Linked DNA regions of Homo sapiens. The protein of the gene in region 1 purifies or fractionates together with the protein of each later gene. This does not show direct contact. Each region holds a gene or a part of one and is shown on either strand. Other genes may lie near its edges.

The links. The genes of interacting proteins can lie anywhere in the genome.
Region 2: the proteins of WTAP (region 1) and CPSF6 purify together in Homo sapiens (affinity purification with mass spectrometry; 2 studies listed by BioGRID and IntAct, with this or other methods). This does not show direct contact.

What each region holds. Positions count from the first base shown.
Region 1 is NC_000006.12:159,734,006-159,737,505, forward strand, and holds part of WTAP (pre-mRNA-splicing regulator WTAP), read left to right. Parts: intron 1-2,252; coding exon of another isoform or gene 2,253-2,260; coding exon 2,261-2,290; intron 2,291-3,500. UniProt on the Homo sapiens protein: Associated component of the WMM complex, a complex that mediates N6-methyladenosine (m6A) methylation of RNAs, a modification that plays a role in the efficiency of mRNA splicing and RNA processing.
Region 2 is NC_000012.12:69,253,069-69,256,568, reverse strand, and holds part of CPSF6 (cleavage and polyadenylation specificity factor subunit 6), read right to left. Parts: coding exon 3,415-3,500; intron 1-3,414. UniProt on the Homo sapiens protein: Component of the cleavage factor Im (CFIm) complex that functions as an activator of the pre-mRNA 3'-end cleavage and polyadenylation processing required for the maturation of pre-mRNA into functional mRNAs.

The sequences.
Region 1 (3,500 bases):
AATTTACTTAATCTGAAAACCAGGGTTTAATAACAGTATGATTAGAATGTTTCATTTATAAAGTGGAGTTGAGATTGTACGTAGTATAAAACATGCTGTTGGAAGATTATCTCCTTTTGAGGAATCTCAAAATCAAGTGGGAGAAATCAAGTAGTCTTGGTGTGTGTGTGTTTTGTTTGTTTGTTTTAATGAGAGACAGGGTCTTACCACATTGCCCGGGCTCGGTTCAAACTCCTAGGCTCAAGCAGCTCTCCTGCCTCAGCCTCCCAAAGTGCTGGGATTACAAGTGTGAGCCACCACACCAGCCTCAAGTAGCTTTCGAGATGATGCCACAGCACTCCAGCCTGGCAACAGAGTGAGACTCCATCTCAAAAAAAAAAAAAAAAATTCAGTTTAACATACCAAGCTTTTGGTCAAATTTCTAGTAGTTTAGAATTTATAATAAGTATGGGTAATTAAAATAAACCATAAACACTTTAAAGTAAGGGAAGATTCATGAGTATACTATTAGAAATAATAACTAGGGCTGGGCGTGATCCTTCCACAGGTAGTTCTAGCTACTTGGGAGGCTGAGATGAGAGTATGACTTGAGCCCAAGAGTTCAAGACTAGCCTGGGCACTATGGTGGGTCCCCATCTCTTAAGAAAGAAAGAATAGGAAAAACTAAATTAGTATAAGAACTAATTACTTAATTTGTATAAGTTATGAATATGCCAAATGCAATTTAGATGCTTTTTCAAAAGAGCACTGGTACTCAGAACCCTGATTCAATTTTTTAATCCTCATAGAATTTTTATATAAAGATTTTATGTTTGTCAGGTTAGCTCTTCATGTCGTATACTTTTTTTTCCAACCTTGTATTTTAATGTGGTGTTTATGTTTATTACACATTTTTTCTTTGTCTTTTTTTTGTGTGTGGATTTGTAGTTTAATGAATAATACCTGCTATTAGCATTCGTTCTAAAAAACAGCATAATAAAGTGTTCCCTACTTGAATTCATTAACCTATCTTTGAAACAGGGTTAAGTGAATTTTGTATAATAAAGAAGCTAATTTTGAGATACAAAATATTTGGCATAAAATTAAATACTGTAGGAATATTTTTATTAAGGTGTGACATACATGTGTATGTGAGTTTTTGTTGTTTGTTTGTTTGAGATGGAGTCTCTGTTGCCCAGGCTGGAATGCAGTGGCGCGCCATCTCGGCTCACTGCAACCTCCGCCTCCCAGGTTCAGGCGATTCCTGCCTCAGTCTCCCTAGTAGCTGGGATTACAGGCGTGTGCCACTACGCCGGGCTAATTTTTTTAATTTTTTGGTAGAGACCGAGTTTCACCATGTTGGCCAGACTTGTCTTGAACTTCTGACCTCAAGTGATCCACCCACCAGCCTCCCAAAATGCTGAGATTACAGTCGTGAGCCATCACGCCCAACCAGTGTAACATATATTTTAAAATATGTAATAGGATGGGCGTGGTGGTTCATTCCTGTAATCCCAGCACTTTGGGAGGCCAAGGCGGACGGGTTGCAATGTCAGGAGTTCGAGACCAGCCTGACCAACACGGTGAAACCCCGTCTCTACTAAAAATACAAAAATGAGCCAGGTGTGGTGGCACGCACCTGTAGTCCCAGCTATTTAGGGGGCTGAGGCAGGAGAATTGCTTGAACCCTGGAGGCGGAGGTTGCAGTGACCTGAGATCGCGCCACTGCACTCCATCCTGGGCGACAGAGTGAGACTGTGTCTCAAAAAAAATAAAAATAAAATATATAATATATCTAAAAAACTATTGGGCAGTAGTAAATTATGGCTGTGGTAGGTACTACCTTACTTTAACAACATAATGCTATAAAAGGAAAGACTTAAACTGGTATTACCCTTTTATAGTCCCTTAGCAACATGCGTAGGATACTACTTGAGGTCATTATATTTCTCTTCACCCTTTATGGCGACATCAAATGATTTGAATGGCTGATCAGCTTTTTTACGAGGGAATTTGTAAAAACTACCCAATAACTCTAATGATGGAAGATGTTAACAAAGGAAGATCTGGGTACAGAGTATATAGGAACTCTGTAATATCTTTGCCACTTTTTTGTAAATCTAAAACTATTTTAAAATTGTTTATTTAAATTCTAATTATTCAACAGTAATTTAGTTCACTAATAAATTGATTTGAAAGAGTCAGTATTTTTTATTCCTACTTTCACTGGAAGAAAATAAATTGAACTTGTTTTCCGCAACTTTTTTTTTTAGGATTCAAGATGACCAACGAAGAACCTCTTCCCAAGAAGGTATGGGTTTTGGTTTTGGGTTTTTTTGTTTTGTTTTGGGTTTTTTGGGGGCTTTTTTAAGCACTTTAAAAAAAAATAGACTTGAAGGGATTATCGTTGTTTGCTTATTTTTCATTTCTTTGCCTTTATAACAATAATAGCATTGGAGTTGTACAGTGTGCCAGATATTGTATCTTATATCCAGTATATTTTTTAGAATATTTTCAGATTTTGGAAAACTTTAGTTATAATAATATTCCCATGGTCTACTCTTAATGTTCATTATGTGAATATTTCCAGGTCTACTCTTAATGTTCATTATGTAAATATTTCCAGGTACATATATACAAATAATGTCAAAAATGGACATTATGAGTATATTATTATTCTTTTCCTAGTGTAAATCCCTTTGATTGTAATTAAAAACTACTTTATTAAAAAAATGGTTATAGCTAATTTTCAAATTCTACCTTTTTCTCTGAAGTTTTGTTGTCTAGTCTCAAATCTCCCCCTGTTGTGCATTCCTACCTTGAGTTTAATTACTCTTACATACACACACATACACACACACAGTGGCTGTTATAAAAGAGGTAACATCGTCTCTAGGAGGAATTTGTGATTCAATTGGGAAAGCTTACTAAACTTAATATTTAAGTGAATAATTTAGATATTACAGAAGTTTCCTATTGTGGAGTCAGATTACTCATTAAATGAATAAAGGATTGTATTATGCTTTCATAATCTGAGAATTACTGTGTGCTCCCTCTGGTACCCTTTGATTTTCCTCCCTTGGAACAGGGTCTTGCTCTCTTGCCCAGGTTGGAGTGCAGTGGTGCAATCTTGGCTTACTGCAGTCTCCGCCTCCTGGGCTCAAGCGATCATCCCACCTCGGCCTCCTGAGTATCTGGGGGCTACAAGTACGTGCCACCACGCCCAGCTAATTTTTGTATTTCTTGTAGAGATGGGGTTTTACCATGTTGCCCAGGCTGGTCTCGAACTCCCGGGCTCAAGAGATAGCCACCTGCCTCTGCCTTCCAAAGTGCTGGGATAATAGGCATGAGCTGCCTCTGGCAGCCTTTCAATATGTTACATTATAATAGTTCCCTCGTTCCATTTTATGGTAATACTATTTTACTGGTTAGTATTATAATTTGAAACATTTTTAAGGAAAAAAATTTAAGTGTCTTGTAAGGGAATACTAATAAAGCCTTTATTTTATTTTTATTTTTTA
Region 2 (3,500 bases), on another chromosome or scaffold:
TAATCCCAGCTGCTTAGAAGGTTGAGGCACGAGGATTGCTTGAGCCCAGGAGTTTGAGGCTACAGTAACCTATAATCACACTACTGCACTCCAGCCTGGGCAACACAGTGAGATCCTGTCTCTAAAAATAAATAATTTTAAAAACTAAAAATATTTCTTAACTATACGAGTACACATTTTTGTTCATCTTGTATAACATACCATAGAATTCAGTCATTCAAAATATATAATTCAGTGGTTTTTAGTATTTCACAGTGTTATAACCACCACCATAATCAATTTTAAAACATTTTCATCACCCCAAAAAGAAACTCCATATCCATTAGCCATCGCTCCCATTCCTTCCCATCCCTGTACCCTATGGAACCACTAAACCTAATTTCTGTCTCTGGACTGGCCTATCCTAGACATTTCATCTAAATGGAATCATACAATAGGAGGTCCCTTGTGACCAGCCTTCTTTAACTAGCATGTTTTCAAGCTTCATCCACTGTTACAGCATGCATCACCACTTACTTTTATGGGTGAATAATTTTCCATTATAAATATACAACATTAAAAGAAATGTATCCATCAGTTCATGGACATTTGGGTTGCTTCCACTTTTTGCTACAATAAAAAGATGTACAATATCATTAACTATTGGGGAAGTGCAAATCAAAACCACAAGATACCACCCCATACCCACTAGGGTGGCTATAATCAAAAAGACAAGTATTAAAGATGTGGAGAGGCCGGGTGCAGTGGCTCACGCCTATAATCTCAGCACTTTGGGAGGCCAAGGCAGGAGGATCATGAGGTCAGGAGTTCAAGACCAGCCTGACCAACATGGTGAAACCCCGTCTCTACTAAAAATTCAAAAATTAGCCAGGCATGGTGGCGTGTGCCTGTAGTCCCACGCTGGGAGGCTGAGACAGGAGAATCGCTTGAACCTGGGAGGCAGAAGTTGCAATGAGCCAAGATTGCGCCACTGCACTCCAGCCTGGGTGACAGAGTGAGACTCTGTCTCAATAAATAAATAAATAAATAAATATGTGGAGAAACTGGAACCATTGCACATTGCTGATGAGCACGTATTAATAAAATGGCACAATGCCTCTGGCAAATAATCTGGTAATTCCTCAAACATTTAAACATAGAGTTACTATATTAACCCAGTAATTCCATTCCTAGGTACACATCCAACAGAACTGAAAATACATGTTCACACAAAATGGGTACACAAATATTCACAGGGGCATTTTCCTTAATAGCCAAAAGTGGAAATAACCTAGACGTCCATCGACTGATAGATTAAAAGAAAAAAGTGCTATATCCATGTAGTGGAATATTACTCAGCCATAAAAAGAAATGCTGATGCATGCTTCAACATGGATGAACCTTAAAATCATTATGCTAAGGAAAAAAGCCAGTCACATAGGACTACGTATTTTATGATTCCATTTAGATGAAATGTCCAGAACAGGCATATCCAGAGCACGTTAGCAGTTGCCAGCAGATAGGAAGAGAGGAAATGGGAGTGACTGCTAACCAGGTACAAGGTTCCTTCTTGGAGTGATGAAATGTTCTGGAATGAGACAGTGGTAATGGTTGCTAAACTTCATAAATATAATAAATTATCATTGAATTGTACATTTAAAAGCCTGCATTTTATGGCATATGAATTATACCTCAAAAAGAAAAACAAATTTAAAATAATCAGAATGATTACCAATTCGTATAGTTACAGGATATTCTAAATTATTTGAGGGAGGGAGGGTCTTAGTAGCTTAAGAAGCTTAAGCTCTTTTCCCCCTAATGTTCAATATGATCTTTTAAATTATCCTTCTTATTTTAGTCAACAAGTTCTGCTGTTTGCACCAGGATTATCTTGGGTCACAACATTTAGAAAAAACTAAATTAATTTAACAAATATTTATTAAGCACCACTTCTTATACGCAAGGTACCATTCTAGAGCTGGAGAAGTAATAGAGAACAAAACAAAATCTCTGTTCTCATTAAGCTTAAAGGCTTGGAAGAGGAGACAACAAACGAGTAAAATATATCAGAGCAGAAATAAAGGAAACAGGATAGGAAGGTGCTACTTTGCACAAGATGGTCATGGAAGAAAACTCTTAAACAGTTTGAGTCCTGAATGAAGTCAAAGAGTAAGCCATGTGGATATTTGAGGGGGAAAAGTAAACCAAGAAGAGAAAACAGCTAAAGGTCCTAGGTAGGAATTGGTCTGGCCAACAGCAAAGAGACTAATGTGGCTGAAAAAGAGTGGTAGGATAGGGTTAGAAAGGTGGTGGGAAAACAGACCAGAAAGTACCTTGTAGACAATGGTAAAGAATGAGACAGACAGGAAACCATGAGAAGATTGAGCAGAATGTCATTTTTTTTTTAGAACTTCTGTTATGTGGAGTACAGACTGTAGGGGGCAGTCTATACTTCCAGTTAGGAAGCTACTGCCAAAGTTTAAGTGAGAGATGATAGTGGCTTTGACCAAGTGGTATAAGTAAAGTTAGTGAGAAGTATTCAGACTCTGCATATATTTTGAAAATATTCTCAGTTTAGTATAAATTGGTATAATCTTCTAAGATAAGTAAGCAATATAAGAAATAAGAAAATTCTTTATCATTGTGCATCTAACAATTTATCCTTAAAAGAAAATCCAAAATCTGTACCAAAAGACTTATATAAAATGATGTCTGCTGCAACATTATTTACAATAGGCAAAAGTGGAAACCACCACGATAACCAAAAATAAGAAAGGTAAATTACAGTAGCATACCAGGTATGATGCAAAAGAATTAGACATTAGAGAGGATGTGTATTTATTTTTATTCCTTATATCAAACATATAAAACACATGAATTATAATTCCATTATTTATTTATTTATTTATTTTTAGGAAAAAGCCCAAAAGAATCTTCACTAAAATGTTAAAAGTAAACATCAATGAATGGTAGGACAGTGGTATTTTATTTTCTTACTTTTAGATATCTGTATTTATAATGTTCTCATGCTGAGGCTATCCCACTTGTATAGTTTAGTAGTGAAATAAAGCAAAATATCCATGTAACACATTATTCAGTTGCCCATCTTCTCCCATCTCTTAATCACAGGGAGAGTAATGGTTCTTAAACTGTCATTTCAACAACCATTTCAACCACAGATAGAGAAAACTTGGGAAAAATAGAAAATAAATCTGTCCACATTTCCACTCTACTGGTTTTAGTGTGTTAGGTAATAGGGTACGTAAAATGAAAAGTATCAATCTTTGCCCAAGAACCTCCTTCCAATGTAAACAATCATGTGTTGTTTGTATACATGTGTATACATGTGTAATTAACATTAACTTAAAGGAAAGTTAACTTGTAAAAACTGTATCACTAGCTACTAAATCAAAAAGAAAGAAAAAAAAAACTTACCCCTTTGACTGGCCATTTGCCCGATTTTCAAAAAATTTTATCTCCAAAATATCATTTACTCCCAAAGAATGAACTGCTTCAGTTAA